Linked DNA regions of Homo sapiens: region 2 is linked to region 1. Evidence: fine-mapped expression QTL. A gene starts in region 1. The other region holds a variant in brackets. All regions are shown on one strand. Distances are from middle to middle.

The links.
Region 2: its variant is fine-mapped to the expression of SLC6A16 in whole blood (TOPMed, PIP 0.97).

The regions. Positions count from the first base shown.
Region 1 is chr19:49,317,299-49,333,417 of GRCh38, forward strand. SLC6A16 (solute carrier family 6 member 16) reads right to left here and starts at 7,893. Exons shown (of 12, transcript NM_014037.3): 1 at 7,750-7,893. RefSeq lists an enhancer at 9,057-9,206 and a silencer at 10,000-10,151.
Region 2 is chr19:49,274,589-49,291,132 of GRCh38, forward strand. SLC6A16 (solute carrier family 6 member 16) reads right to left here. Exons shown (of 12, transcript NM_014037.3): 11 at 16,017-16,179; 12 at 15,050-15,804. The coding sequence ends at 15,535. It also overlaps the pseudogene SUMO1P4. Among named protein-coding and RNA genes, the nearest start is that of MIR4324, 26 kb to the right of the region's middle. The variant C/G (reference allele first, on the strand shown) is at 7,746.

The sequences.
Region 1 (16,119 bases):
CCACTGCACTCCAGCTTGGGCAACAGAGTAAGACCCTATCTCAAAAATAATAACAATAATAATAAAATAAAATTAATTAATTAAAAGATAATTTTAAGAAAACATAGAAATGAAGGATATACAGGATCCAGATAAAAATGGGGAGAAGAAATTTCCACTTTTGACCATGAAAGCAAAACAGTGTCTGGAGTTACCTCCACAAAAACACTACAAAACTGTACAAATAGGCCAGGCGCCGTGGCTCACGCCTGTAATCCTAGCACTTTAGGAGGCCGAGGCGGGCGGACCACGAGGTCAGGAGATCAAGACCATCCTGGCTAACATGGTGAAACCCCATCTCTACTAAAAATACAAAAAATTAGCCGGGCATGGTGGCGGGCGCCTGTAGTCCCAGCTACTCGGGAGGCTGTGGCAGGAGAATGGCGTGAACCCAGGAGGTGGGGCTTGCAGTGAGCAGAGATCGCACCACTGCACTCCAGCCAGGGCAACACAGCGAGACTCCGTCTCAAAAAAAAAAAACTGTACAAATAATTAAAACAACTATTTTCACATATTAAACAAAGGCAGTACAGCATTGCAATCTCTAAAAAAAGGCCAGAAAACAAGGTAACTAATTGCACGATTGCCCCATTTTTCTGCTAATTTCCAAACTTTGGCACAGGAGGAAGAATACAAACAGAGCCTGGCAGTCTCAGCACTTGAGGAGGCAAAAGTCAGTTCAGGAAGGCTTAGGTGACTAGAATTAGCTGGGCTAAGTACTCAACAGAAGGGAGCCACAGAGAAAGAGCTCTAGGAATCTGGATAAAGTACCTTCGAGCCATTAGCTAAATATCAACCTGCACATGTATAGTATGAAACCTCATAAGAACAGGCAAAGAATAAATTCCAAGGAAAGAAAAGTACTGGGGAACTACAGGTAAAACAATTCCTAGAACTTGGAGAAGAACAAGAATTACTCAAGTTTCCATCAGCCAGTGTGGAGAGACTTTACTGAATACTTGGAACATTTAAAGTGGCATAAACTAGCTCTAGTTCTAGTAGTAGGACTACTTTAGACCTGAAAAAAAAAAATTCTTAAAAGCAACCCTTAAACAGCCAAAACTGATCTTCAAGTAACTTAACTGCCTGTCACAACAAAGGCCAACATTCCTTAAGATAATACAGACAAACCTAGCACTGAACAACAAAAAATTCATAATGTCAACCATCTAGTCAAAAATTACTAGACATGCAAAAAAGCAGGAAAAGTGACCCATAATCAGACAACAAAAACAGAAATGATAGACTAATGGAATTAACACACCATAACACTAAAATAGCTGTTACAAATATGCTTAATATGGTCAAGGACTTAAAAGGAAAACATGAACAGAATGAGGAATATAAGATAGCTAGATAGCTAGCTAGCTAGACAGACAGATAGATATTTTCTCTTTTGAGACAGAGTCTCACTCTGTTGCCCACACTGATCTCAGCTCACTGCAGCCTCTGCCTCCAAGTTTCAAGCAATTCTCCTTCCTCAGCCTCCCAAGTAGCTGGAATTACAGGTGTGCACCACCACAACTGGCTATTTTTTTTTTTTTTTTTTTTTTTTAGTAGAGACAGGGTTTTGCCATGTTGGCCAGGCTGGTCTCGAACTCCTGATCTCATGTGATCCAGCTACCATGGCCTCCCAAAGTGCTGGGATTACAGGCATGAGCCTCCATGCCTAGCCATGATATATTTTAAACATCAAATAGAACTTCTAGAGATGATACAACACCTGAAATGAAAATTTCACTGAAGATTACTGGCAGATTTTAATAAATCAGTGAACTTAAAGATATAGCAATAGAAACAATCCAAAATGAAGCACAAAGAAAAAAAAAAGACTGAAAACAATTACCAGAGCATTAGTGACTGTGAGACAATATCAAATGGCCTAAAATGTGTAACTGGAGGTCCAAAATAAAGGGAGGATGGGAAAATGAAACCAGGCCAATTTTCCAACAAGCCAGATGCCCATAGAACTGAAGCTTGAGAAACTTACATTTGTACAATGAGATGAACCTGCTGTATGTTGACCAAGTACTCTTCTTTACTCCTCCCTAATTCCTTCATATATGTGTGTGTGTATATATATATATTTGTATATACATATAAATACATATACATATACATATGTGTATATGTGTATATGTATATACATATACTTATACATATATGTGTATATGTGTATATGTATATACATATACCTATACGATATATACATATACATATATATATCAAGAAAAGACTCACATAATTGAAAGGATAAAAGGACAGTTCTACAATAATAACTGGAGACTTTAATACCCCACTACGAACAATGGACAGAAGCAGCAGACAGAAGATAAGCAAGGAAATAGAGGACTTAACACAATAAACCAACCAGATCTAACAGATGTATTCAGAACACTCTAGCCAACAGCAGCAGAATACACATTCTTCTCAAGTGCACATGGGACATTTTCCAGGAGAGACCACAAATTTGTAGGCCACAAATTTCCTTTTTTTCTCAATAGAATTAGAATGATAAATATCATACAAAATATCTTCTCCAGCCACAATAGGATGAAGTTAGAAATGAATCACAAAAGTAAAATTGAAAATTTTACAAATTTGTAGAAATTAAACAACACACTCTTAAACAACCAATGGATCAAAGAATAAACTACAAGGGGAGTTAGAAAATACTTACAGATAAATGAAAACGAAAACACACATACTAAAATTTATGGGAGGCAACAAAAGCAATGCCAAGGGGGAAATTTATAACTATCAATGGTTACATTAAAAAACAAAAAAGAGGCCGGATGCAGTGGCTCACGCCTGTAATCCCAGCACTTTGGGAGGCTGAGGTGGGTGGATCATTTGAGGTCAGGAGTTCAAGACCAGCTTGACCTACATAGTGAAACCCCATCTCTATTAAAATACAAAAATTAGCTAGGCATGGTGGTGGGCGCCTGTAATCCCAGCTACTCAGGAGGCTGAGGCAGGAGAATCGCTTGAACCTAGGAGGCGGAGGTTGCAGTGAGCCGAGATCACACCACTGCACTCCAGCCTGGGCAACAGAGCAAGACTCCCTCTAAAAACAAACAAACAAACAAACAAAAAAAAACCAGATCTTGAATCAATAACCTAACTCTAAAACTTAAGAAACTAGAAAAGCAAACTAAACCCAAAGCTAGCAGAAGAAAATAATAAAAATTAAAGCAGAAATGAATAGAGAATAGAAAAACAATAGAGAAGCCAAAAGTTGTTTCTTTAAAAATATCAACAAAATTGACAAACCTTTAACTAGATGTACTAAGAAAAAAAGAGAAGACTCAAATGATTAAAACCAGAAATGAAAATGGGGACATTATTACCAATTCTACAGAAATAGAAGGATTATAAGAGAGTACTATGAACTTATGAACAACTGTACACCAATAAACTGGATAACCTAGATTAAATGGACAAATTCCTAGAAATACAAATCTACTAAGACTAAATCACAAACAGAAAATCTGAATAGATCTATAACTAGTAAGGAGATTGAATTGGTAATCAAAAATCTCTCAACAAAGAAAAGCTCTGGACCTGATGGCTTCATGGGTGAATTCTACTAAACCTTTAATGAATTAATATCAATCCTTCTCAAACTTTTCCAAAAAATTGGAGAGGAGGGAACACTTCCTCATTCATCCTATAAGGCCAACATTGCCCTAATACCAGAGCCATACAAAGACATTATAAGAAAAGAACACTACAGACCTATATTCATTATGAACTTTGATGCAAAAATCCTCAAAAAAAATACTACCAAACCTAATTCAGCAGCATATTAAAAGGATTATATACCATGACCAAGTGGGATTTATTCCTGGAATGCAAGGATGGTTCTGCATACAAAAATCAATCAATATAATATACCACATTAACAAAATGAAAGAAAAATAATGATTCTCTCAACTGATGCAGAAAAAACATTTGACAAAACTCAATACCCTTTCATGATAAAAAAAAAAAAAAAAACTCAACAATCTAGGAGTTAAAGGAAAATACGGCTGGGCATGGTGACTCATGCCTGTAATCCCAACACTTTGGGAGGCCTGATGACCACTTGAACCCAGGAGTTCAAGACCAGCCTGGGGCCAGGTGCAGTGGCTCACATCTGTAATCCCAGCACTTTGGGAGGCCAAGGCGGGTGGATCACCTGAGGTCAGGAGTTCAAGACCAGCCTGGCTAACATGGTGAAACCTGATCTCTACTAAAAATACAAAAATTAGTCAGATGTGGTGGTGTGCACCTGTAGTCCCAGCTACTTGGGAGGCTAAGGCTGGAGAATCGCTTGAACCTGGGAGGCAGAGGTTGCAGTGAGCCAAGATCATACCACTGCACTCCAGCCTGGGTGACAGAGCAAGACTCCATCTCAAAAACAAACAAACAAACAAACAAACAAAATTTTTAATTACCTGGGTGTGTTGATGTACTTCTGTAGTCCTAGCTACTCATGAGGCTGAGATGGGAGAATCACTTCAGCCCAGGAGGTCAACGCTACAGTGAGCCATGATGACACCACTACACTCCAGCCTGGGTCACAAAGTGACACCATGTCTCAGCAAAAAAAAAAAAAGGAAAATATCCCAACATAATAGCCATATACGAAAAACTCACAGCAAATGTCATACTTAATGATAAAAGACTGTAAGCTTTTCCTCTAAGATTAGAAACAAGCGTAGAATGTCTAATTTTGCCACTTTTATTCAACATAGTACTGGAAGTCCTAGCCAGAGAAATTAGGCAAAAATATAAATAAATAAAAGGAAACCAAACTAGAAAGATTATATGATCTTATACGTAGAAAATCCTAAAATTTTCACCAAAAAAATTTTTGAGCTAATAAATGAATTCAGCAAAGTAGCAGGATACAAAGTCAACAATCAAAACTCAGTTGCATTTTTATACACTAACAATGAACAATCTGAAAAGAAAATTATGAAAACAATTCCATTTGTAATAGCATCAGAAAGAATAAAATACTTAAGAATTAACTTGGCTGGGCACGGTGGCTCAAGCCTGTAATCCCAGCACTTTGGGAGGCCAAAGTGGGCAGATCACCTGAGGTCAGGAGTTCGAGACCAGCCTGACGAACATGGAGAAAACCCGTTTCCATTACCAAGTTACCCAGGCATGGTGGCACATGCCTGTAATCCCAGCTACTCAGGAGGCTGAGGCAGGAGAATCACTTGAACCTGGGAGGCAGAGGTTGCAGTGAGCCGAGATTGCACCATTGCACTCCAACCTGGGCAACAAGAGTGAAACTCCATCTCAAAAAAAAAAAAAAAAAGAATTAACCAAGAAGGTGAAAGACATGTACAAAGAAAACTACAAAACATTGCTGAAAAAAATTAAAGGAGACATAAATAAATGGAAAAATATCCCATGTTCATGGGTTGGAAGACAACACTGTTAAGATGTCAGTATTACCCAAAGCAATCTACAGAATTAGTAGCTTTTTTTTTTTTTTTTTTTTTTTTTTTTTTTTTTTTTTTTTTTTTGCAGAAATAGAAAAACACGTCCTAAAACTAACATGAAATCTCAAGGGACCCTGAACAGCCAAAATAATCTTGAAAAAGAAGAAAAACGCTGGTGTACTCACATTTCCTGATTTCAAAACATATTACAAAGCTATAGTAATCAAAATAGTGTGTTACTCACATAAAGATACAGACCAAGGGAACAGAATAGAGGGCCCAGAAACAATGTATGGAAAAATGATTTTTTACAAGGGTGCCAAGACTACTCAATGAGTAAAGGACAGTCTTTTCAACAAATGGTGCTGGGAAAACTGGATTATGTACAGGCAAAAGAGTAAAGATGGACTCTTACCTAACACCACATACAAATACACAAAATAAATCAAAGACCTAAATGTAACACTTAAAATTATAAAATTCTTAGAATAAAACATACGACAAAAGCTTCATGATAGTGGATCTGCAATGAATTCTTGGATATGATACCAAAGGCAAAAGCAACAAAAGAAGAAACAAACAGGATTTCATTAAAATGTTTTAAATTTGTGCATCAAGAGACACTATCAAAGGGGTGAAAAGATAACCCACAGAATGGGAGGAAATATCTGAAAATCATATGTATAATAAGAGATTAATATTCAGAATATATAGAGAACTCGTAAAACTCAACAACAAAGAAACAAACAACACAATTCAAAAATGGGCAAAAGACTTAAATAGACATTTCTCCAAGGAAGATATACCAATCTCCAAGAAGTACATGAAAAGATGTTCAACGTCACTAATCATTAAGGAAATGCAAATGAAAACTACAATGAGATAATACCTCGCATCCATTAGGATGGCTAATATAAAAAGGCAGAAAATAAGAAGTGTTGGTGAGGATGTGGAGAAATTGGAATCCTTGTGCCTTGCTGGTCAGAATGTAAAATGGTGCAACCACCATGGAAAACACTATGGTGGTTCCTCAAAAACTTAAAAATAGAATTACCATATGATCCAGCAATTCCACTTCTGGGTATACACCCAAAATAAGTGAAAACCAAGCCTCCAGTGGCTCAGCCTGTAATCCCAGCTCTTTGAAAGGCTGAGGTGGAAGGATTGCTTGAGCCCAGAAGTTCGAGGCTGTAGTGAGAGGTGATCATGCCACTGGACTCCAGCCTGGGAGACAGAGAGAGACCCTGTCTCTTAAAAATAATAATAATAGGCTGGGCACGGGGGTTCACACCTGTAATCTCAGCACTTTAGGAAGCTGAGGCGGGTGGATCGGCTGAGGTCAGGAGCTCGAGACCAGCCAGGCCAACACAGTGAAACCCCGTTTCTACTAAAAATACAAAAAATTAGCTGGGGGTGGTGGCGCACGCCTATAGTCCCAGCTACTTGGGAGGCTGAGGCAGGAGAATCGCTTGAACCTGGGAAGCAGAGGTTGCAGTGAGCTGAGATCGTGCCACTGCACTCCAGCCTGGGTGACAGAGTGGGACTCCATCTCAAATAAATAAATAAATAAAAAATAATAGATTCATGTTTCTTAAACACATTCTAGAACAGTTGTCCTTAAAAGCAAGCTTTACGGAAGGGAGAGAACTGAGTTTTGGCCAGCTGGCCACTTCCAACATCCATAAAGCCCCTTGAGCCCCAGGCGGACTCCTCTTCCCATATGGGTGCAACCCTCCATGGTGCCCCTACACCGTCATCCCAAGCAACTCCTAGGCTCATGCCCTGTGGGGAGTGCTCAGGATCCCCCAGAAATGCCCATTCCCCTCACATTACCTCCTTCCCTGGAACTATAACCTCCAGAAAAGGAAAATAAGGAGCTGGTGTCCCATTTCTGCAAAAAGCAGAAAATAACTGCCCTAACAGACCAGTGATGGGGCTAGACCCGGGTTTCTGCCACTCGGGCACTTGACACTGATGGCTTTCCCCAAAGGCAGGGACTGATGGCCGAATCCTGTCAAGGAATTGGCTCAAACTCGGACTGGATGAGTGAGGAGAGCCGAAGACAGTTTCCTCTGTCCTACGTGGGGGGTAAAGGAGGGACCCCTTTGATCCCTCAGCTCCACAGAGCCCAGGGCAACCAGGAGGCTCCCAGCCAGTCACCTGTCACCCGTCAGTGGAGCCCAGTGGGCCCGGGCCTCGAAAATGGCGCCCAGCCCCACACACCCCAGATGTGGGAACATTTTAGGGCTCCCTGGGCCGTGACCCTCACCCTAGCCCCAAGGCTTCTGCCAGGTTCTTCAGTCCAGCCAGTCGGACAAAAATGAGGGTGAAGAAGCCCCAGCTGAGAAGCCTAGCAATCTCCTCAGGCCCCTTCAGGCGTCGACAGATCGGTTTGGGCGACACCCCTCGATCTGCCTGGCGCGCGGCCTTTCCCGCCGATTCTCTGCGCATGCGCCGCCGCGCCCCCTCACTCTTTCCCTACAGCTGTAGCAAACACTGTAACCACTTCGCCCTCCCCAACTCCCTGCTCTCTCCCCACACGCACGCACGTGTGCACATCCTCTGACTGCTCACGCGCCACTCCCTTCCCCACCGCACCCCACCCCGACACCCACGATGCCACGCTTCAGGCGGGGCTCTAAGACAAGGCCTTTCTCTGGCACATGCACTTTGCTTCCACTTCATGTAAGGAAGAAGAGGGTAGGAAGTGGGAGAATCGTCTCATTCATTCCTTCTAGCCTTCAAACCTTTCGCATTTACTTAAAGATCGCCTACTAGAAACCAAACCTTAAATATGCGTCCAACAAGGCAGACAGGGACGTTGCCTTAAGAGAGCTCAGAAGCCTACTAGGGCTGCAGACAAGAATTAAAAACTCAAAGATTTACTTAGGTCATCCGTTCTCATACTTTCCGGTCTCTTAAGAATTATTAAGGACTCCAATAATTTATGAGTTACATTTATATGGGTTGTATGTTTATGTGAGTTGTATCTATCAATATTAAAATAAATTTCTAAAATAGTCATTGTTTAAAAATTCATTATGTGTCAAAATAACATTTTTATTTAAAATAACTATAATTTCTACTCCAAAAGAAATTTTGGCGCTGGGCGCGGTGGCTGACGCCTGTAATCCCAGCACTTTGGGAGGCCAAGGCGGGTGGATCACGAGGTCAGGAGTTCGAGACTAGCTTGGCCAACATGATGAAACCCCGTCTCTACTAAAAGTCAAAAAAAAAAAAAATTAGCCGGGCGTGGTGGCACACACCTGTAATCCCAGCTACTCGGGAGCCTGAGGCAGGAGAATCGTTGGAACCCAGGAGGCAGAGGTTGCAATGAGCCGAGATTTTGCCACTGCACTCCAGCCTAGACAACAGAGCAAGACTCCGTCTCAAAAAAAAAAAGGAAAAAAAAGAAAAAATTTGGGGAGAAGAATGGCATCATTTTACATTTTTGCAAATCTCTCTAATGTCTGGCTTCATAGAAGACAGCTGGATTCTCATATCTGCTTCTGCACTGAGTGTGTCAAAATAGCTCATGTCTTGTAGCTTCTGGCAAACATCACTATATTCAAAGAGGAAATGAAAGTGAAAGGCAAATAATATCTTAGTAGTATTATGAAAATAATGTTCACCTCATGGACCCCCAAAAGTGTTTCAAGAGCCCCCAGGAGTCCCTGAGCCACACTTTGAGAATGAAAGGCTTAAATTGTTATGATTGAACAAAGAGATGAAGAGGAAATTTTGGGGGTGCTGTAAGAATTCATCACAATCTTTGGGAATCATTCAATCTTTCAACACGTATTTATCGAGAGTCTACTAAATGCTAGGAACTGGGAATAGTGTAGAGAACAAAACAGACCCCATTCCTGCCCTCGTTTTGCTTCACACAACAAGAAAACAGATATATGATGAATCTCAAATAATTACATGATTATAAATTGTATTAAGTGCTATGACAGGCCGGGCATGGTGGCTCACGCCTGTAATCCCAGCACTTTGGGAGGCCAAGGTGGGCGGATCACATGAGGCCAGGAGTTCAAGACCAGCCTGGCCAACATGGTGAAACCCCATCTCTACTAAAAATACAAAAACGAGCCAGGTGTGGTGGTGCACGCCTGTAATCCCAGCTACTCGGGTGGCTGAGGCACAAGAATCACTTAAAACCATGAGGCAGAAGTTGCAGTAAGCCAAGATCACACTACTACACTCCAGCCTGGGTGATGGGGTAAGACCCTGTCTCAAGGAAAAAAAAAAAAGTGCTGCGACAGAAAAGGGCCACAGACCTATTTATTTCTATCGAATTTTTTTTTTTTTTGAGACAATCTCACTTTGTCACCCAGGCTGAAGTGCAGTGGCATAATCTCGGCTCACTGCAACCTCTGCCTCCCGGGTTCAAGCAATTCTCCCTGCCTCAGCCTTCCGAGTAGCTGGGGTTGCAGGTGCCTGCCATTACGCCTGGTTAATTTTCATATTTTTAGTAGAGTCAGGGTTTAGTAGAGTCAGCCTGCCATGTTGGCCAGGCTGGTCTTGAACTCCTGACCTCAGGTGATCCGCCCGCCTCAGCCTCCCAAAGTGCTGGGATTACAGGCGTGAGCCACTGCGCCCGGCCCATAGACCTAATTTAGAAGGAGGATTTCTCTAAGGAAATAACACTGGAGTTGAGGCTTAAAGGATTATTTGCTAGGTGAAAAATGTGTGTGAACATCTCAAGCCTTGAGGCTGTGCAAAGGCCCTGAGGCAGGGCAAACTGTGTGTTCAAGGCACCAGGAAAAGTCTCAGTCGGTCAATAAATATTTATTGAATGATGTGCCCCACACTGTCCTAGACCCCTGGGATATAGTTATGAAAAAGATTTTACGTTCCAGTTGCACAAAGAAAGTAAATGCCTAAATAGAAAGAATTTCAGAGAGTAAGAGTGCTGATAGGGAGTTACTTTAGACAGGGTAGTCAAGAAGGACTCTTGGGGAAAGTGATATTTCAGCAGAGAGCTGAAGGAAGGGAGCCTTGTGAACAGCATAGGGAAGAACATTCCAGGCAAAGAAAATGGCAACAGCAAAAGCCTTGAGGCAAGAAGTACACTTGATGGGTTCTGGAAATGGCAAAGAGTCTGATATGAATGGATCCCAGTGATTGAGGAAAGGGTAGCAACAGATCAGATCAGAGCAGTGGCAGGGGCCAGAGTATTATTTGGAGGCCCTTATAGGTCATGGTCGGAATTTTTTTCTTTTTTTTCTGGGTGAGATGAAAGCTATTTGAGGGTTCTGAGTCAAGGAGTGACTTTCATTTTAATGGCAGGCTCCCCCTGGCTTCTGGGCAGAGAATAGCATGTATGGGTGTATTCCTCTGTTTTCACACTGCTGTAAAGAACTGCTCAAGACTGGGTAATTTACGAAGAAAAGAGGTTTAATTGACTCACAGTTCAGCTTGGCTGGGGAGGCCTCAGGAAACTTACAATCATGGCAGAAGGCAAAGGGGAAAAAAGGCACCTTCTTCACAAGCAAAGGAGGGAAGAGCCCCTTATAAAACCATCAGATCTCATGAGAACTCACTCACTATCACAAAAACAGCCTGGGGAAACCACCCCCATGATTCAGTTACCTCCACCTGGTCTCTCCTTTGACACATGGGGATTATGAAGATTATAATTCAAGATGAGATTTTGGGTGGGGACACAGCCAAATCATAGCAATGGGCTAAAGATAGAAGCAGAGAGCCCAGTGAGGAGGAAATCTCTAGTCCAGGCAAGTGATGGTGTTGATTAGATCTGGGTAATAGCAATGGAGATGGTGAAAAGTGGTCAAATTCTGGATCTATTTCAAGAATAGAGCCGACATGATGTGTTGATGGATTGTGTGGTGGTTTTAAAATACGTCTGCAAATTCTTCAACACTTTGAAAGATAAAGTCTATTTCCCCAATCTTTGAGTGCAGGCTCTCCTTAGCAACTGGCTTCCAATGAACATAAGTAATGGTGGGGAACTTCAGGACTAGGTCATAAAAAGCATTGCTGTTTCTTACTTGCCCATTCCCTTCAACTGATTTCTGTAAAGGAAGCCAGTCACCATACGGTGAGGACACTCAAGCAATCTGTGAAGAGATCCATATAAGAGAAGAGCTGAAATTTCCTGCCAGCAACCAGCACCAGGTGAGTGAACCATGGTGAAGTGGATCCTCCAGCCGTAGTTAAATCTCCAGATGACTACAGCCCCAGCCAACATCTTGACTGCAACCTCATAAAACACTGTGAGCAGAAATCATCCAACTAAGCTGCTCCCAGATTCCTGACCCACAAAAACTACAGTAGGTAAGAAATGTTTATTGTGTTTTTTTTTTGAGATAGAGTCCTGCTCTGTTGCCCAGGCTGCAGTGCAGTGGTGCGATCTCAGCTCACCACAACCTCCGCCTCCCAGGTTCAAGCAATTCTCCTGCCTCAGCCTCCCGAGTAGCTGGGACTACAGGTGGGACCACATCCAGCTAATTTTTGTATTTTTAGTAGAGACGGGGTTTCACTATGTTGGTCAGGCTGGTCTCGAACTCCTGACCTCGTAATCTGCCTGCCTCAGCCTCCCAAAGTGCTGGGATTACAGTGAGCCACCGCTCCTGGCCTAAGAAATGTTTATTGTTTTAAACTGCTAAATTTGGGGTAATTTGTTACAGAGCATTAGAAAACTAATGGTGATTAGGTTTGGGGTCTGAGAGAAAGAGAGGAATCAAGAATGACTCAGCCGGGAGCGGTGGCTTGCACCTGTAGTCCCAGCACTTTGCAAGGGCGAGGTGGGAGGATTGCTTGAGGCTAGGAGTTTGATAGTAGGATACTAGCCTGGGCAACATAGCAAGGCCTTGTCTTTTTTTTTTTTTTTTTTTTTTTTTGAGACAGTCTAGTCTCGCTCTGTCGCCCAGGCTGGAGTGCAGTGGTGCGATCTCCACTCACTGCAAGCTCTGCCTCCCAGGTTCACACCATTCTCCTGCCTCAGCCTCCCGAATAGCTGGGACTACAGGCGCCCGCCACTACGCCTGGCTAATTTTTTGTATTTTTAGTAGAGACGGGGGTTTCACTGTGTTAGCCAGGATGGTCTCGATCTCCTGAACTCGTGATCCGCCCGCCTCGGCCTCCCAAAGTGCTGGGATTACAGGCGTGAGCCACCGTGCCCAGCCCGGCCTTGTCTCTTAAAGGAAAGAAAAGTGTTTTTTAATAGCCAGGTGTGGTGGCACGCATCTGTTGTCCCAGCTACTCAGGAGGCTGAGTGGGAAGATCACTTGAGCCCAGGAGATTGAGGCTGCAATGAGTCATGATCGTGCCAGTGCCCTCCCACTTGTGTGACAGAGCAAGACCTCAAAAAAAAAAAAAAGACTCCAAAACTTTGGGCCTGAAGAATTGGAAGATGGAGTGACAATTTACTGAAAAGGAAAGTACTGGAGTGTGCAGGAGGTGGGAGGGAATCAATAGTTTCGTTTTGGGCGTGTTAAGTTTGAGATGTCAATTATACAGCCAAAGGCAGAGGTTAAGTTGTCCTTCACTGCAAGGAGACCTGGGAAATGAATCTTCCTGAGTCCGCAGTTCAGGGGAAAGTTTGAGGCTAGGCATATAAATTGGTAAGTCAACAGTATTGTAGATTGCGATGAACACTATGGCACTGCATGATATCATCTCGTGAGTGAGTGTAGCTAGAAAGGGCTAGGACTCCCCAAATTTTAGAAGCTAGAAAAAGGACGATCCAATGAAGATTGAGGAGAACCAGCCAGTGAAGAAGGAAGGAGGAAAAGCAAGAGGGAATTTGCCAGTAAAGGAGGAGGGGATCAGGTGAATTCAATGGGTAGAATTGCTGTTCTCAAACGTTAGTGCACATCAGTCACCAGGAAGGCTTGTTAAAACACAGACTGCCAGGCCAGGTGCAGTGGCTTGCCTGTAATCCCAGGACTTTGGGAGGCCAAGGTGGGCAGATCACCTGAGGTCAGGAGTTCAAGACCAGCCTGGCCAACATGGTGAAACCCTGTCTCTACTAAAAATACAAAAATTAGCTGGGCATGATGGTGGGTGTCTGTAATCCCAGCTACTCAGGAGGCTGAGGCGGGAGAATCGCTTGAACCCGGGAAGCAGAGGTTGCAGTGAGCCGAGGTTGTGCCATTGCACTCCAGCCTGGGCAATAGAGTGAGACAAAAAAAAAACACAAAAAAAAAAACAGATTGCCAGGCCCGCCCCCAGAGTTTCTGATTGAGCAGGTATATTCGCTTCCCGAGACTGCTGTATAAATTACTACAAACTTGGTGGCTTAAAGCAACAAAAATATATTATCTCACAGTTCTGGATGCCAAAAGTCCGAAATTAAGGTGTCAGCACGCCACTTCCTTCAAAGGCTCAGAGGACAATCCTTCCTTGACTCTTCAGTTTCTGGTAGCTCCTGGTGTTCCACTTTTTTTTCCCCTGTAGGGTCTTGCTCTGTCATCCAGGCTGGAGTGCAGTGGTGCAATCACGGCTCACTGCAACTTCGATCTCCCAGGCTCAAGCAGTCCTCCCACCTCAGCCTCCTGAGTAGCTGGGACTGTAGGTACATACCACAAAGCCCAGCTAATTTTTTTGTTAATTTTTGTAGACAGGGTCTCACTATGTTGCCCAGGCTGGTCTCGAACTCCTGGGCTCATGTGATCCTCCTGCCTCAGCCTCCCAAAGTGCTGGAATTACAGGCATGAGCCACCTCACCTGGCCCATAATAATGTTTTGATATATATAGTGTATGCAGTAACAGGTATTCTATTTGTAGTTGTTAGGATGTTTAAGGTTAGCTGATTTAACAAACAACCGTAAAATCTTAGTAGCTTAATACAACAGGTTGTTACTTACATAAAGTCCAAAATGCTTTATGTAAGTCCAAGGATAATTCTCAGCTTCCTGCAGCCAGTGAGTGAAGGGAGAAAGAGTAAGGATTATGGAGGACATTTCAGGCTGAGTCTAGAAATGGGCTGTGTCCCTTCTGCACCCATTCCATTGGCCCAAGACCAGTCACATGGCCTCAACTTCACTGCAAGGAGACCTGGGAAATGAAGTCCTCCTGTGTGCCTAGGAAAGAAGAAACCAAGTTGGTGAGCATCAAAGCTGCAGTGAGCCGTGATTGCACCACTGCACTCTGCCACCTACCCTTCGACTTCTGGTTAATCATGTACTCATCTCTGAGGAGGGATCAGTGGGTGGGAAGGAGGGATTGGTGTATTAGTCTCCTATGGCTGAAATAGCAAATTACCACAGACTTACTACTTAGAACAACAGAAATGTATTCTCACATGGTTCTGTAGGCCAGAAGTCCAAAATCAAGGTGTCACCAGGGCCACACTCCCTCCAGAGGCTCTGAGAGAAAATCAGTTCTTTGCATCTTCCATCTCCTGGTGGCTCCAGGAGTTCCTTGGCTTGTGGCTGTAGAACTCCAATTTCTGTGTCTACCATCACATGGTGCTCTCCTCTTCTGTGTCTTCTCCTCTGTGTGTTTCTTAGAAGGACACTTGTCAGCCGGGTGCGGTGGCTCACGCCTGTAATCCCAGAACTTTGGGAAGCTGAAGTGGGTGGATCACGAGGTCAGGAATTCAAGACCAGCCTGGCCAAGATGGTGAAACCCCATCTCTACTAAAAATACTAAAATCAGCTGGGTGTGCTGGCAGGCGCCTGCCTGTAATCACATTTACTCGGGAGGCTGAGGCAGAGAATTGCTTGAACCTGGGAGGCGGAGGTTGCAGTGAGCCGAGATCACACCACAGCACTCCAGCCTGGGTGACAGAGCGAGGCTCTGTCTCAAAAACAAAAACAAAAAACAGACACTTGTCATCAGATTTAGGGGTCACACAGATAATGCAGTATCTTGAGATCCTGAATGTAATTATACCCGCAAAACCCTTTTTTCCAAATAAGGTCACCACAAGTTCTGGGGATTAGGACATAGACATATCTTTTTGGAGAACGCCATGCAACCCACTATAATCAGCTATAATTATTTTTGTAGAAAATGATGGGAACCTGACTTAGGATGGTGGCCTTGGAAAGAAGTGGCTGGGTTTGCAATGTACTTTAATGGTAGAGCAGAGAGGCGTTGGTGGTGGTTAGAAACAGAAGCTGAGGGGCTGGGCGCAGTGGCTTACACCTGTAATGTCAGCACTTTGGGAGGCCAAGGCAGTTGGATCACTTGAGGTCAGGAGTTCAACACCAGCCTGGCCAACATGGTGAAACCCTGTCTGTACTAAAAATACAAAAATTAGTCAGGTATGGTGGTGCATGCCTGTAATCCCAGCTACTCTGGAGGCTGAGACAGGAGAATTGCTTGAACGCAGGAGGCAGAGGTTGCAGTGAGCCATAATCGTGCCACTGCACTCCAGCCTGGTCAACAGAGTGAGACTCCATCTCAAAACAAACAAACAACAACAACAACAAAAACCTGGGTGTGGTGGCTCATGCCTGTAATCCCAGCACTTGGGGAGGCCGAGGTGAGCGGATCACTTGAGGTCAGGAGTTCGAGGTCAGCCTGGCCAACATGGTGAAACCCCGTCTCTACCAAAAATACAAAAATTAGCCGGGCGTAGTGGGTCATGCCTGTAATCCCAGCTACTTGGGAGAATGAGGCAGGAGAATCGCTTGAACCCAGGAGGCGGAGGTTGCAGTC
Region 2 (16,544 bases), 42 kb before region 1:
TAACCTATCTCCTTTTTATTATAAAATACACATATTCCAAAAAGTGTACAAAACTGAAATGTTCACCTGAATGATTTATTGTAAAGCAAATGCCCCAACCATCCTAGCCAAGATTGAAATCTGAGTATCAGGAAACAATATTTAAGATTAAAAGTACCGAGCACATTAGAGACGTATGGTACATGCTCAACACGCAAAGAAAAAAATAACAGCCACAAGCCTATATGTACCAAACAACTGGAGAGCTAAATATTTAAGGCAAAACACGTATAAAACCAAAAAGAAATTGATCAAAATATAACTACGATGGCAATTATCATACAACTTTTTCAGAACTCACAGATCTAATAGAGAAAAAAAAGGACATAGAGAAATTGAATAATGCAAACAAATACGATTTAATAGATACTTAGTCATATTAGAAATGAACAATTTTAGGGAAGGGAGATGGATTTGTGAACCCTGGAGTGCGGTTCTGCCTACTCGAGGCCGCTGCTGTGTGGAGACCCCTGGGTGAAGCCACTGTCATCATGTCTGACCAGGAGGCAAAACCTTCAACTGAGGACTTGGGGGATAAGAAGGAAGGTGAATATATTAAACTCAAAGTCACTGGACAGGATAGCAGTGAGATTCACTTCAAAGTGAAAATGACAACACATCTCAAGAAACTCAAAGAATCATACTGTCAAAGACAGGGTATTCCAATGAATCCACTCGGTTTCTCTTTGAGGGTCAGAGAATTGCTGATAATCATACTCCAAAAGAACTGGGAATGGAGGAAGAAGATGTGATTGAAGTTTATCAGGAACAAACGTAGTGGGGGGCGGTCATTCAACGGCTTATTCTTTTTTTATTTTCCCTCGATCCTTTAATCCTTTATTTTTAAAAATAGTTCCTTTGTAATGTGGTGTTCAAAACGCAATTGAAAACTGGTACCCCATCTCTTTGAAACATCTGGTAATTTGAATTCTGGTGTTCATTATTCATTATCATTTGTTTTCATTGTGCTGATTTTTGGTGATCAAGCCTCAGTCCCCTTCATATTACCCTCCTTTTTTTTTTTTTTGAGACGGAGTCTCGCTCTATCGCCCAGGATGGAGTGCTGTGGCGCGATCTCGGCTCACTGCAACCTCCACCTCCCGGGTTCACTCCATTCTCCTGCCTCAGCCTCCCGAGTAGCTGGGATTACAGGCACCCGCCACCACGCCTGGCTAATTTTTTGTATTTTCAGTAGAGACGGGCTTTCACCGTGTTAGCCAGGATGGTCTCGATCTCCTGATCTTGTGATCTGCCAGCCTCGGCCTCCTAAAGTGCTGGGATTACAGGCGTGAGCCACCGCGCCCAGCCTACCCTCTCCTTTTTAAAAATTACGTGTGCACAGAGAGGCCACCTTTTTCAGGACATTGCATTTTCAGGCTTGTGGTGGTGATAAGTAAGATCGGCCAATGCAGGTGTTCATAATGACTTTCCAACTGGCCCTGATGTTCTAGCATGTGATTGCTTCACTCCTGGACTGTGACTTTCAGTGGGAGATGGGAGTTTTTTCAGAGAACTGAACAGTGGAAAAACGACCTTTCCTTAACTTGAAGGTACTTTTAAAATTTGAGGGTCTGGACCAAAAGAAGAGGAATATCAGGTTGAAGTCAAGACGACAGATCAGGTAAGAGTGATGCCTAACTCCAAAGATGGCTTCACTGAAGAAAAGGCATTTTAAGATTTTTTTTAAATCTTGTCAGAAGATCCCAGAAAAGTTCTGATTTTCATTAGCAATTAATAAAGCAATACACGTAGAAATGAATAAGGCAGAACACTGCTCTTTTTTATTTGTTCTTTTTGGCCTGGGATATGGGTTTTAAATGGACATTGTACCAGCTTCATTAAAATAAACAATATTTGTAAAAATCGTAAAAAAAAGAAATGAACAATTTTAAAAGAGAAAATAACCTTAATGACTTGGAAATTAAGAAATATGCTTCTGTGGTGAGAGGGTCATTTGAGCTCAGGCGTTCAAGACCAGCCTAGGCAACACAGCAAGACACCCATCTCATATCTATATATCTATCTATATATATATATATATATATATATACACACACACACACACATACATACACACACACTTCCAGATAATCCTTGGATTAAAAAGAAGCTAAGTAGAAAATTACAAAGTTTCCAGGTAGCATAAAAGTGTGTGTGTATATATATTTCCAGATAATCCTATACACACACACACACACACACAACCCCACACACACACTTCCAGATAATCCTTGGATTAAAAAGAAGTAGAAAATTACAAAGTTTCTAGGTAGCATAAAAAGGAGATTTCATATCAAAACCTTTGACATACAGCAAAAATTACACTTTACTGAAGACTAAAGATGATGAATAAAGGAACTTAATACTCCCCTTAAGAAATCAGAATAGGCTGGGCGCAGTGGCTCACGCCTGTAATCCTAGCACTTCGGGAGGCTGAGACAGGTGGATCACTTGAGGTCAGGAGTTTGAGAAATCAGAAGAATAAAGACAAAACAAACTAGAAATTGTAATTATAAAGTTGACATTAATAAGATAGAAAATAAAGTAAAAATGCTAAGTAAATCCAAATGCCACTTGTGAATCTGATTGAGAAAAAGATAAATAAAAATAACAAAATGTAAAAAATGAGAAAAGAGACACAGCCATCAAATTTAGAATTTTAAGGACATATGCTATATGAAATCCTAGGTCAACAAATCTGAAACCTTAGAGGAAACTGAAAGTGTCTGGCAAATGTAAATTACTAAAAATAATCCAAGAATTTTGGGGAAAATTAATGGAAAGGGTTGGAAAGATGAGTAGAGATTTACTGCACAAATGGGCTCTGGGACCAGATGGGTTCAGAGATGAGTTCGATTTAACCTTTAAAAAGCAGATGGTTCTAATGTCAATTACACCAGGCTGCTCAAAGTGTGGCCCACGAATCCTAAGCATCACCTGGGAGTGTGATAAATGCAAATTAATGAACCTGAATCCAGATTCACCACATAAAAATCACTAGCGGGCGGCCGGGTGCAGTGGCTCACGCCTGTTATCCCAGAACTTTGGGAGGCCAAGGCGGGCAGATCACGAGGTCAGGAGTTCGAGAACAGCCTGGCCAACATGGCGAAACCCTGTCTTTACTAAAACTACAAAAATTAGACAGGAGTGGTGGTGCACGCCTGTAATCCCAGCTATTCGAGACGGCTGAGGCAGGAGAATCGCTTGAACCTGGGAGGCGGAGGTTGCAGTGAGCCGAGATCGCACCATTGCACTCCAGCCTGGGTGACAAGAGCAAGACTCTGTTTCAAGAAAAAAAAAAAAAAATCACTAGAAGATGGGGCCCAACGATCTGTTTAACCAGCTTTCCAGGTGACTTTCAGCATACTAAAGTTTGAGCAGCACTGGCTTAGGATCACAGAAAAAATAAAGAGCGCCTCAATTTACTTTCTGAAGCTAGCATAACTTTAATGCCAAAATTTATAAAAAGTAGAAAAAAACCCCTCATTTACAAAGACGAGATGAACAAGCTAAATATTAGCAAGTAGAATCTAGAATATATCAAAAGGATAATACATTACACCTAAGTAGAATTGATCCCACAAGGAGAGTTCAATATTTAAAATTCTATCAACAAGTCCACTAAATGCTAAAAAGCCATTTGGCAAAATGCGGCAGTTCTATGAATATACTAAATATCATTGAATTGTAAACTTTTTTTTTTGAGACGGAGTTTTGCTCTTGTCCCCCAGGCTGGAGTGCAATGGCATGATCTCAGCTCACTGCAACCTCTGCTTCCCAGGTTCAAGAGATTCTCCTGCCTCAGCCTCCCAGGTAGCTGGGATTACAGGCACCCAACACCATGCCCGCCTAATTTTTGTGTTTTTAGTAGAGGTGGGGTTTTGACATATTGACCAGGGTGGACTAGAATTCCTGACCTCAAGTGATCCACCCACCTCGGCCTCCCGAAGTGCTGTGATTACAGGAATGAGCCGCCATGCCTGGCCGAATTGTAAATTTTAAATAGGTTGATTGTGTGGTATATGAATCACATTTCAATAAAGCTGTCACAGAAGACTATCTTAGGCCTCTGGACAAAAGGGAGCTTGGGAGTGTCTGGTAGACATCTCTGATAGCAATAACTTTCCTTAACCCTACCCTTATGGCAGATACACCTGACAGCAATAACTTAAGCTGCCTCTGAGAATGAGGGTTGCCACGTAGAGGTTGCTAGGGGAGGATGCTAAGTGAAAGTGCCCTATGAACTGCATTTTTTTTTCTTTTTTTTGAGACAGAGTCTCGCTCTGTCACCCAGGCTGGAGTGCAGTGGTACCATCTGAGCTCACTGCAACCTTGCCTCCCAAGTTCAAGCGATTCTCCTGCCTCAGCCTCCCAAGTAGCTGGGACTACAGGCGCCCGCCACCATGCCCAGCTAATTTTTATATTATTAGTAGAGACGGTTTCACCATGTTGGCCAGGCTGGTCTCGAACTCCTGACCTCAAGTGGTCCACCTGCCTCAGCCTCCCAAAGTACTGGGATTACAGGCACGAGCCACCGAGTCTGGCCTGAACTGCATGCTTTTTGCAAATGGTTGTAGTTCTCCTGTCCAGTCCACCACCACTGGCCCATGCTGCAAGTTCCCCCAAATAAGCCCTGTGTTTTGTGTGCTGGCTCTGGGTCTCTTCTTCAGCCTCTTGAACTTGGTGCCATGGCTACTGAAGTTAACAGGCATTTGGCACGACAACCGATGATCCCAGCAGGAGGTTGGAGAAAATCCTGTGCACGCAGAGTCGATGGGATTGGAGAGGAGAATATCATCGGGGGGCATCTCGGGCTGGCTGTCCACGTCTGTGTGGGGCCCAACAGCCACTATCCTTGATGGATGAGGCCCAAGGCATGGGTACAGAGATGCCCCCAAAACACTGAAGGGTCTGGAAGAGCTATTGCAGGAGGTGGATCTAACTAAGCAAAAGTTAGATGCCTGAGCTGTGGCAGCTGCGGTTGGCTGGCCACTCCTGACTGTGCTCTGAGCAGCCTCGGGGGCCGGGCTCATGGCGCAGGTGAAGGTGCATCCATTACAAGATGAACTGCGATGACAAAGAGATGCCTAATTAGATCAGACTGAAACATCAGAGACCGACTGTCCTGCCTGCAGGCACGGGATGACAAAATGGAGAGACCCTGGCTTGTCAGGTATGGTCCATTTGAAAAGCTGCTGGCTGCTATGTCAATGAGTTAGGGCCCTCATGACTAAATCATCCTGGGACCCTAAGTTCTGGGACCCCATGGAGAGCTCTAGTGGGGAAGAGAGTGAGGCCTGGGATGAGCTCATGGAGGTGCCCATCCTCTCTGCACGTTTGCTGGTCAACACCAAGATGAAAGCCGACCAACCACAGACATAGGGGGTCACCCTGCAAGACTTGCCCCTGCCTGGAAGACACCATAGTGCGGGATTCCACGGCTGTGGAGTTGGTGGAGCTGGGAACTAGGTTCAGGAAGAAGGGCAGAGAGTCGGTCACAGGGTGGCTTCTCTGTCTATGGGACATGGAACAGAGATGAGTGAAATGGCATCCATCACCAACCATCCAGCCCTGAGGCGGTGCCTCGATGGCACCAATAATGACGATCGGGCCACCCCCTCCTTAGCCGGGTGGTTGCAAGCTGCAAGGCAGCCTGGCCAAATGAAAGGAATGTCCCAGCTGGGTGCAGTGGCTCAGGCCTGTAATCCCAGCACTTTGGGAGGCCGAGGCAGGAGGATCATGAGGTAGGGAGTTTGAGACCAGCCTGGCCAATATGGTGAAACCCCGTCTCTACTAAAAATACAAAAATTAGTCGGGTGTCGTGGCAGGTGCCTGTAATCCCAGCTACTCGGGAGGCTGAGGCAGAAGAATCGTTTGAACCCGGGAGGCGGAGGTTGCAGTGAGCTGAGATGGAGCCATTGCACTCCAGCCTGGACAACAGGGCGAGACTCCATCTCAAAAAGAAAGAAAGGAATGTCCCCACATCTCCTTTGTGATGACAGATTATGGAGGAATTGAGGGACATCCTCTGGGAATTAGGGGTGATGCTTGCTATCTACACTGAGCATTACCGAGGCCCTGACAAGGAGCTTTTCACTGCGGGCATGAGAAATGCCATCTTACAGTAGGCACACTACCAATGGTGTGGCACACTGGCGTCTATCTTGAGTCCCTTCATAGGAATCACTTGAACCTGGGAGGCGGAGGTTGCAGTGAGCCAAGATCGTGCCACTGCACTCCAGCCTGGACCACAGAGTGAGACTCCGTCTCAGAAAAAAAAAAAAAAGGCAAAAAACCAAGAATGCATCCAGGAGGCAAGGTGGCTTACGCCTGTAATCCCAGCACTTTGGGAGGCTGAGGTGGGCAGATCACGAGGTGAGGAGTTCGAGACCAGCCTGACCAACATGGTGAAACCCTGTCTCTACCAAAAATACCAAAAGTTAGCTGGGCACCTGTAATCCCAGCTACTCTGGAGGCTGAGGCAGGAGAATCGCTTGAACCCGGGAGGTAGAGGTTGCAGTGAGCCGAGATCGTGCCACTGCACTCCAGCCTGGTGACAGAGTGAGACTCCATCTCAAAAACAAAACGAAACAAAAAAACAAGAATGTACAGGCTGTTCCCAGCGGATACTGGAGCTGAATGCACTCTCGTATGTGGTGACATCCGTGGTTCCAGTGGCCTATAACAATAGATGGTCGGTGGGGGCGGGGGTCGTGAAAGTCAGACAGGTTGAGCTAGTATTACAAGTTAGGAGACTGCTGCCCAAACCCTATTTAGTATACAGAGCTCCTATCCCAGATTACATCTTGGGAAGGGCTGTCTCATCAGGACTGTGACCCTCTGAATTGCGACTGAGTTAGGATGGTGAGGCGCGTGATCAAGGGGAATGCGAAATGGACACCAGCACAGCTGCCAGCCCCTCTGTGAATAGCAGCATTGAAACGACAACACCTGGCCGGGCGCGGTGGCTCACGCCTGTAATCCCAGCACTTTGGGAGGACGAGGCAGGCGGATCACGAGGTCAGAGGATCCAGACCGTCCTGGCTAACACGGTGAAACCCTGTCTCTACTAAAAGATACAAAAAATTAACCGGGCGCGGTGGCGGGTGCCTGTAGTCCCAGCTACTCCGGAGGCTGAGGCAGGAGAATGGCGCGAACCCGGGAGGCGGAGCTTGCAGTGAGCTGAGATCGTGCCACTGCACTCCAGCCTGGGCGACAGAGCAAGACTCCGTCTCAAAAAAAAAAAAAAAAAAGAAAAGAAAAAAGAAACGACAACACCTGCCAGGAGGTCATGATGAGATCATAGGGACTGAAAAGGAAAGAAGTCTGGGTAGACATTATAAGACCAGTGAACAGCCCATACAATAGCCCTGCATGGCCCATGTGGATGCCTGATGGGACACGGAGAATGACATATTACTGGGAGTTCAACAAAGCCGTCCCCCTAATGTATGCAGCTGTTCTCATATCGCCTCCTTTCTTATGAGGATAAGAGAGGGACTGCACGCACCTCATTTTGTCATTGCATTCACCTGGTATATTAGTCCGTTTTCAAGCTGCTATAAAGAACTGCCCAAAACTAGGTAATTCATAAGGGAAAGAGGTTTAATTGACTTACAGTTCAGCATAGCTGGGGAGGCCTCAGGAAGCTTACGATCACAGCAGAAGGCAAAGGGGAAGAAAGGCACCCTCTTCACGAGGCCGGG[C/G]GAAGGGGGGAAGAGCCCCTTATAAAACCATCAGATCTCGCGAGATCTCACTCCCTGCCACGAGAACAGCATGGGGGAAACCGCCCCAATGATTCAATTACCTCCACCTGGTGTCTCTGACACGTGGGGATTATAGAGATTTCAACTCAAGACGAGATTTGGATGGGGACACAAAGCCTAACCCTAGCTGGGCGTGGTGGCGGGCGCCTGTAATCCCAGCTGCTCAGGAGGCTGAGGCAGGAGAATGGTGTGAACCTGGGAGGCGAAAGTTGCAGTGAGCCGAGACCACGCCATTGCACTCCAGCCTGGGCAACAGAACGAGACTCCCTCTCAAAAAAAAAGCCTAACCTTTTCACCTGGGAAGGAGAACAATATACCTTTACTGTCTTGCCGCGGGGATATTTCCATAGCCTCACTATCTGTCAACGCCTAGTGGCCACAGACCTCAGTAGATGGACTACCCTGGAGAGGGTACATGTTTTCCTTTACATTGATGTTAAATTCTGAGTCTTTTGCCAGCTAACTTCTGAGTCTCTATAGCCCTCACCTTGCTGTCTCACTTGGTTAACAGAGGATGGGCGGTCAATGCAGACAAAGGCAGGGTCCAGGCTTATCAGTCCAATACTTGGTGTCATCTGGTTGGGTAAGACTAACGGTGTTCAATTTGCCATTCTACATATGGTGCAGGCCTACCCACATCCTACACCACCAAAGTGGCTGCAAACCTTCTTAGTTCTTCTAAGGCCGTGGTGTCCTTTTATTTCCCATTTGGCTCAACTCCTTAGGCCACTGTACCACTTAGTCAAGAAGGGGGCCAACTGGGACCAGTGGCAAAGGCAAGGACACAAACTTGTACCTTTAGGATTCTGGTTCCAGCTATGGAAGGGGACTGAAGTTACAGTGTCAGGGAGCTATAATTCTGCACTACGTGTTATGCCTTACAGCAAGTGGAAGATGTTCCAAAGGGGTTCCCATGCTAGTACATACCCAGTACCCCATAGTAGGTTAGCTGGGATTACAGGTGCCCGCCACCACGCCCACCTAATTTTTGTATTTTTAGTAGAGACAGGGTTTTGCCATGTTGGCCAGGCTGGTCTCAAACTCCTGACCTCAGGTGATCCGCCCACCTTGGCCTCCCAAAATGTTGGGATTACAGGCGTAAGCCGCCACGCCCAGCCAGCCTGTGCATTCTTAGGTGACCAATATATAGTTAGCTAGCTCTATATGTGGCCGCCAGTCTCCAGACACTCAGCCACCATTGCTCTTATCGGGATCCTGAGGCCTTAGCCTTTATCCTAGTCGAAAGTAGGACACCTTCCAGAAACCAAAATCTGGGAATGCCCAGAAACAGATTGTGGCCAAATGGCACGCATGCCTGCAACAGAGGAGTACACGAACTAGCACAGGGTTCCGTTTGCTGCTTGGCCCTGTCACCTATGTGACAGCTGAAGGACAGTCTTTGACAAGGCACTGAGCCTCCACATATTCCCTCCTTTATATAAGAGGGACAGGCCCCAATTCCTGACCAGGCCTGGTACACAGATGGCTTGTCACGAGGCAATCCTTCCACCTGTATCCAGCTGTCCACTGAGAGTATCTGGCTCGATACAGGCAAAGGACATGTAGCCAATGGGCTGAGCTGCCTGGATGGTTTCTTCTAGGAGCCGGACCCAACAGTCCTGTGCACTGACATCTGGGCACCATCTTTAAGGGGCCCACCATGTGCCTACTACAAGGAGAAACACAGGATTGGATGGTAGCAGGCAGCCCCCTTTGGGGGGCTGATATAGAAGAACATTCTCCACTGCACCTGGGGGATGCATGTAACAGTCTAGCGTCTGGATGCCCACACTGCATAATATCCCTATTGTCTTACTCCAGCCTCATGTGACACTTTGTAGAGAGGGGGCCAACCTATTTGGTATTGCAAACCAAGCACCAGGCCACTCTCGGGGTGATGCTGTCTCAGAAGGACACAACTTCCTGTTTCTTGTAAAATGACCATGAGGCTGGGTGCAGTGGTACATGCCTGTAATCCCAGCACTTTGGAAGGCCGAGGTGGGTGGATCACCTGAGGCCAGCAGTTTGAGACCAACCTGGCCAATATGGCAAAACGCCACCTGTACTAAAAACAAAAAATTAGCTGGGCATGATGGCGGGCGCCTATAATCCCAGCTACTTGGGAGGCTGAGGCAGGAGAATCGCTTGAACCCAGGAGGCGGAGGTTGCAGTGAGCCGAGATCCAGCTACTGCACTCCAGCCTGGGCAACAAGAGTGAAACTCTGTCTCAAAAAGAAAAAAATGACCATGACTTGCCCCTTCTTGTACTCACTAAACATCTCACTTTTCACCCATAGATGGTATGCAGCAAACCTCTTGCCAGCTGAGCACAGACGGTGGTCTCTCTCCAGAACAAAACAGACTGTTGGGTCTGCAGAGAGCTGCCCCTCTCCTCCACTGCGGGCCTGCCGTGGTGCCTCGCAGCAGTTAACCTGAGTACCTGAAGCCACTTTTATATTCATTATTTTTTCTGTTGTAGTTTGTATTGCTGCTGTGGTGTCTGGCTGCAATGCTCCTCCGCATACCTGGCCCCAGGGAAATGGTGGAAGAACGGTACAAGAATGTGAGGGCCATTCAAAGGTATGCTAGAGTGGCCAGGTCGCAGTGGCTCACGCCTGTAAACCCAGCATTTTGGGAGGGCCGAGGCATGTGGATCACTTGAGGTCAGGAGTTCAAGACAAGCCTGGCCAACATGGTGAAACCCCATCTCTACTAAAAATACAAAAATTAGCCAGGTGTGGTGGCACATACCTGTAATCCCAGCTACTCAGGAGGCTGAGGCAGGAGAATCACTTGAACCTGGGAGGCGGAGGTTGCAGTGAGCCAAGATCGCACCACTGCACTCTAGCCTTGGCGACAGAGTGAGACTCCGTCTCAGAAAAATGAAAAACAAAAACAAAAAAAACACAGCAAGGTGGGTATGCTGGAGTGAGGGTATATGGTAGACGCACCTGGCAGCAATAACTTAAGCACACCCTGAGGATAAGGGCTGCCGCATGGAGGTTGCTGGGGGAGGGTGCTGAGTGAAAGTGCCATATAAACTGCATGCATTTTGCAAGTGGGTGTGGTTCTCCTGTCCAGCTCATCACCACTGGATCACCCTGTAAGTTATCTCAAATAAACCCTATTTCTCGTTTGCTAGCCCTGGGTCTCTTCTTCAGCCTCTTGAACGTGGCGCCATCCCTATTGAAGCGTCCCGCATGTCAGGGATGCAAATTAGAAAGCAGAATTAGGCCAGGTGCAGTGGCTCACGCGCTTTGGGAGGCTGAGGCGGGCGGATCCCTTGAGGCCAGGAGTTCGAGCCCAGCCTGGCCAACATGGCAAAACCCCTATCTCTACTAGAAATACAAAAATTAGCTGGGCACAGTGGTGTGCGCCTATAATCCCAGCTACTTGGGAGGCTGAGACATAAGAATCGCGTGAGCCCAGGAGGTAGAGGTTGCAGTAAGCCGAGATCGTGCCACTGCACTCCAGCTTGGGCAACAGAGCGAGACTGTCTCAAAAAAAAGAAAAAAAAAAGGCTGGGTGCAGGGGCTCACGCCTGTAATCCTAGCACTTTGGGAGGCCAAAATGGGCAGATCATGAGGTCAGGAGTTCGAGACCAGCAACTCTCGAGACAGGGCTACATGTGACTCTCGAGACTGTCTCGAGACTGTCTAGAGACAGGGCAACATGGTGAAACCCTGTCTCTACTAAAAATACAAAAATAGCTGGGCGTGGTGGTGCACCCCTGTAATCCCAGCTACTCAGAAGGCTGAGGCAGGAGAATTGCTTGAACCTAGGAGGCAGAGTTTGCAGTGAGCCAAGACCGAGACACTGTACTCCAGCCTGGGCAACAGAGCAAGGCTCTGTCAAAAAAGAAAGAAAGAAAGAGAGAGAGAGAGAGAGAGAGAGAGAGAGAGAGGGAAACACACTAAGAGAGAAATAAAATATTTTTTCTTTCTTTCTTTGAGATGGTAAGCCCCTACTTTTCAATCCCCCTCTCCCAAGTTCCACCTCCAAAACTGGACCGGGGATGGTGGGGAGGTAGGTGGGAGGGGCCTTGAGGCAGAAGGGAGGATGAGTGCCCTGGTTCCCAAAAGGGAGGAGGTTGAAGACCCAGACTATTTGATGAGAAGGAGGAGCCCACCGCCTTCTCTCTCCCATCCCCACATTACCCGATTCAATAGTGCAAGTCTTCAAGCAGATAGAGCATTTGGAATTTGGGGGGTGGATGGGCTGGCCTAATAGGGCACAGGAGCCAATGGGTGATGACACAGAGGTGCACGCCCCTCCAGCCCTCCTATCTTCAAGCTTGAAGAGCCAGACTTCAGAGGTCTGGAAACTTCAGATGCCTCTGCTCTTTCCTTTCTGCAGATCCACCTCTTGAGTCCTGCCTGCCAATGGTTGGGGGTGTCTTCTTTTCCTTTATCACTGAAACTTACCCGTGGGCTCTAAGCAATCTAAAAGCCTGAGATCTCTGAGCATTTAAGGGAAACCCATTCCCTGGATCTTTGGGAATCCCAATCACCTCTGTCCACAGCCCCCATCCCCAGCAGGTAACTGACAGGCCCCCCAGTCTCCTTTTGGGGAGTACTTCAGCACCCTCATGGCACTACCCTCCCACAAGTTCTTAAAGACCCACTCAGTGATCATCCACTGGGCAAGTTCAGTTGATTTGACCCTGGGATAAAAACCAGTGGTGCCCAGTACTGAGCAGAAATGGGACTCTTGGTGAGCTCAGTGAAACAGCTTGTTAGTAACTGGTTGTGGCACTGATTTACAGATGTACTCAGTCCACAACACAATGTTCAAACCTTGAGTGCAACCTCTTTTTAGAAATAATTTTAGACCTATAATAGGATTATCATGTATCAGTAGCAAGCACATTAATATCTTCCCCATCTTTGTTGAAGTCACCATTTCCCAGGTTTCCCTTGGCTAAAGGCCAGCCCGTGGATAATGCAAGCCTGGTAATCTAGTATCTGAGTTTGCCAGAGCAAGGGGAGGGCAGGAACTCAGGGCTGGACATTTAGCTTTAGAAAGACTGTGATATGGTTTGGCTGTGTCCCCATTTAAATCTCAACTTCAGTTGTATCTTCCAGAATTCCCATGTGTTGTGGGAGGAACCCAGGGGGAGGTAATTGAATCATGGGGGCTGGTCTTTTCCATGCTGTCTCATGATAATGAATAAATCTCATGAGATCTGATGGGTCTATCAGGGATTTCCACTTTTGCTTCATTTTCTCTCTTGCCACCACCATGTAAGAAGTGCCTTTCACCTCCCGCCAGGATTCTGAGGCCTCCCCAGCCATGTGGAACTGTAAGTCCAATTAAACCTTTTTGTTCCCAGTTTCAGGTATGTATTTATCAGCAGCATGAAAACTAATACAGTAAACTGGTACCAGTAGAGTGGGGTGTTGCTGAAAAGATACCCAACAATATGGAAGCAACTTTGGAACTGGGTAACAGGCAGAGGTTGGAACAGTTTGGAGGGCTCAGAAGAAGACAGGAAAATGTGGGAAAGTTTGGAACCTCCTGAAGACCTACTGAATGGTTTTGACAAAAATGCTGATATGAACAATAAGGTCCAGGCTGAGGTGGTCTCAGATGGAGATGAGGAACTTGTTGGGTACTGGAGCAAAGATGACTCTTTATTATGTTTTAGCAAAGTGACTAGTGGCATCTTGCCCCTGCCCTAGAGATTTGTGGAACTTTGAACTTGAGAGAGATGATTTAGTGTATCTGGCAGAAGAAATTTCTAAGCAGCAAAGTATTCAGAAGGTGACTTGCGTGCTGTTAAAAGCATTCCGTTTTAAAAGGGAAACAGCATAAAAGTTCAGAAAATTTGCAGCCTGATGATGCAGTGGAAAAGAAAAATCCATTTTTGAGGAGAAATTCAAGCCAGCTGCAGAAATTTGCATGAGTAGCAAGGAGCCTAATGTTAATCCCTTAGACCATGGGGAAAATGTCTCCAGGCCATATCAGAGACATTCATGGCAGCCCCTCCCATCACAGGCCCAGAGGCCCAGGAGGAAAAAGTGGTTTTGTGGGCCAGGCCCAGGGTCCCCATGCAGTGTGCAGCCTAGGGACTTGGTGCCCTGTGTCCCAGCCACTCCAGCCATGGCTGAAAGGGGCCAACGTACAGCTCGGGCTGTGGCTTCAGAGAGTAGAAGCCCCAAGCCTTGGCAGCTTCCACGTGATGTTGAGCCTGCGGGTGCACAGAAGTCAAGAATTGAGGTTTGGGAACCTCCGCCTAGATCTCAGAAGATATATGGAAATGCATGGATGTCCAGGCAAAAGTTTTCTGTAGGGGCAGAGCCCTCATGCAGAACCTCTGCCAGGGAGGGAAATGCAGAAGGGAAACGTGGGGTCAGAGCCCTCACACAGAGTCAGAGTCCCTACTGGGGCACTGCCTAGTGGAGCTGTGAGAAGAGGGCCACTGTCCTCCAGACCCCAGAATGGTAGAACCACTGACAGCTTGCACCCTGAGCTTGGAAAAGCCACACTCAACACCAGCCCGTGAAAGCAGCTGGAAGGGGGACTGTACCCTGCAAAGCCACGAGGTGGAGCTGCCTAAGACCATGGGAACCCACCTTTTGCATCAGCATGACCTGGATGTGAGATCTGGAGTCAAAGGAGATCATTATGGAGCTTTAAAATTTGACTCCCCTGCTAGATTTTGGACTTGCATGGGCCCTGTAACCCCTTTGTTTTGGCCAATTTCTCTCATTTGGAATGGCTGTATTTACCTGATACCAGTACCCCCATTGTATCTAGGAAGTAACTAGCTTGTTTTTGATTTTACAGGCTCATAGGTGGAAGGGACTTGCCTTGTCTCAGATGACACTCTGGACTTTTGGATTAATGCTGAAATGAGTTGAGACATTGGGGGACTGTTGGGAAGGCATGATTGCTTTTGAAATGTGAGGACATGAGATTTGGAGGGGCCAGGGGCAGAATGATATGGTTTCACTGTGTCTCCATTTAAATATAAACTTCAATTATATCTCCCAGAATTCCCACGTGTTATGGGAGGGAACCAGGGGAGGTAATTGAATCATGGGGGCTGGTCTTTTCCATCCTAATCTCGTGATAGTGAATAAGTCTCATGAGATCTAATGGGTTTATCAGGGGTTTCCACTTTTGCTTCTTCCTCATTTTTTTCTCTTGCTGCCATCATGTAAGAAATGCCTTTCACCTCCCACCATGATTGAGGCCTCCCCAACCATGTGGAACTGTAAGTCCAGTTAAACCTCTTTTTGTTCCCAGTTTCAGGTATGTCTTTATTAGCAGTGTGAAAATGAACTAATACAGACTGGAAGCCTTGTGACAGGAAAACTGAACATCTGAGACATCTATAGGAAAAAAAGATCTGCTTACATCCAGTCCTTGGAGTTCCAGTAGACTGATTTATTCACCAACAGCATTGCTCCTCCAGCTCCATTCCAGGAGACAGGCACCCCAGAAGTAGCAGGACTGGTAGACATCACTAGTATTGTATATGTGTTGTGCATGTATGTGTGTTGAGGAAGAGGATGGGGAAAACAATGATGGTGGTCACCAGGTAAGATGGGACCCAGGAAGGGATTGCAAGTCCAGGCCCCATGAACACCCCCAAAGAATGCCCCTCCTCTTGGAAATAAAAGTGGTTCTGGATCCAGGGAGATCAACAGTTGCAAGCTGATATTAAGAGTTGTCTATTGGATCTGTTCTAAGGGATATGTTATGTGAAGCCAAATTAATGAAGTTAGGAAGTCACATTACAAGTTGATGGGTACTTTGTTTCATCAACTTGTAGAATTTCTTCCTTTTGAACCTCTTTACTGGGTGTTAGCTGGTGACTTAGGGGTAGGGATGTGGAGGCTGTCATAGGCCCGTCTCCGCTCTTGGGCCTGAAGGGAATCCTATGTATGCGGCAGTATACAAAGTATGCAGGGATGGGGAGGATGACAATGGCAAAAAGGGTGATCATCAAGAGCAGTGCCCACGGTGGGTATGGTCGAAGCACCTCTTTTGACTGTGGAGAGATGGGAAAAGGGTTCAGAATATCAAAATCCCCAAGAGAAAAGGAAGAGTTGTGGAGGGGAAGGATGGGTGGGGAACCAAAGCAGAAAACCCATGAGTCTTCGGGCAGTAAGAGAATGAGATGACTGGGTTCTTTCACCCAGAGTGAATTGAAAGGTCTGGCCCCTACTCCCAAAGGGGTTCTGGGTCCTGGGGGAGGCTCACGGTGCTTGAGTCCCAGGACATGTAGGTGATCGGCTTCATACAAAGATGAACCATCATGGTCACAAAGATGATTAGCAGCACAACTGGACACAGATGGGGCCACAGCCAACCAAAGATGGGAGAGATGGGGTGGCCCAACAGGATCGTCAGGTCTGCAAGGAACCTGGAGAAGGGCCACCAGAGTGTGGGATGCCCAGTTAGGCCTCACCACCTTGGAGGCAGGGCCAGCCCAACCTTGGCATCTTTCAAACATTCTATTGTATCTCTAATCTCCTGTTTCATCTCAAGTCTTGTCCTCTCTCATCTTCCCCCTAGTCAGTCTGTCTTCTATCCTAACCCAAGAAACTTTTCCAAACACCCCTCTCCTGCTCAAGAACTTTCCATGGGTATCCAATGGCCTCAGGAGAAAGGCCAAGTCTCTTTCATTCATCCCATAAATATGAGAATGTCTATGATGTGCCAGGAACTCTTCTAAGTGCTGGATATCCAGCAGTGAACAACACAGATAAAATAAAGTGGCATTTGGCC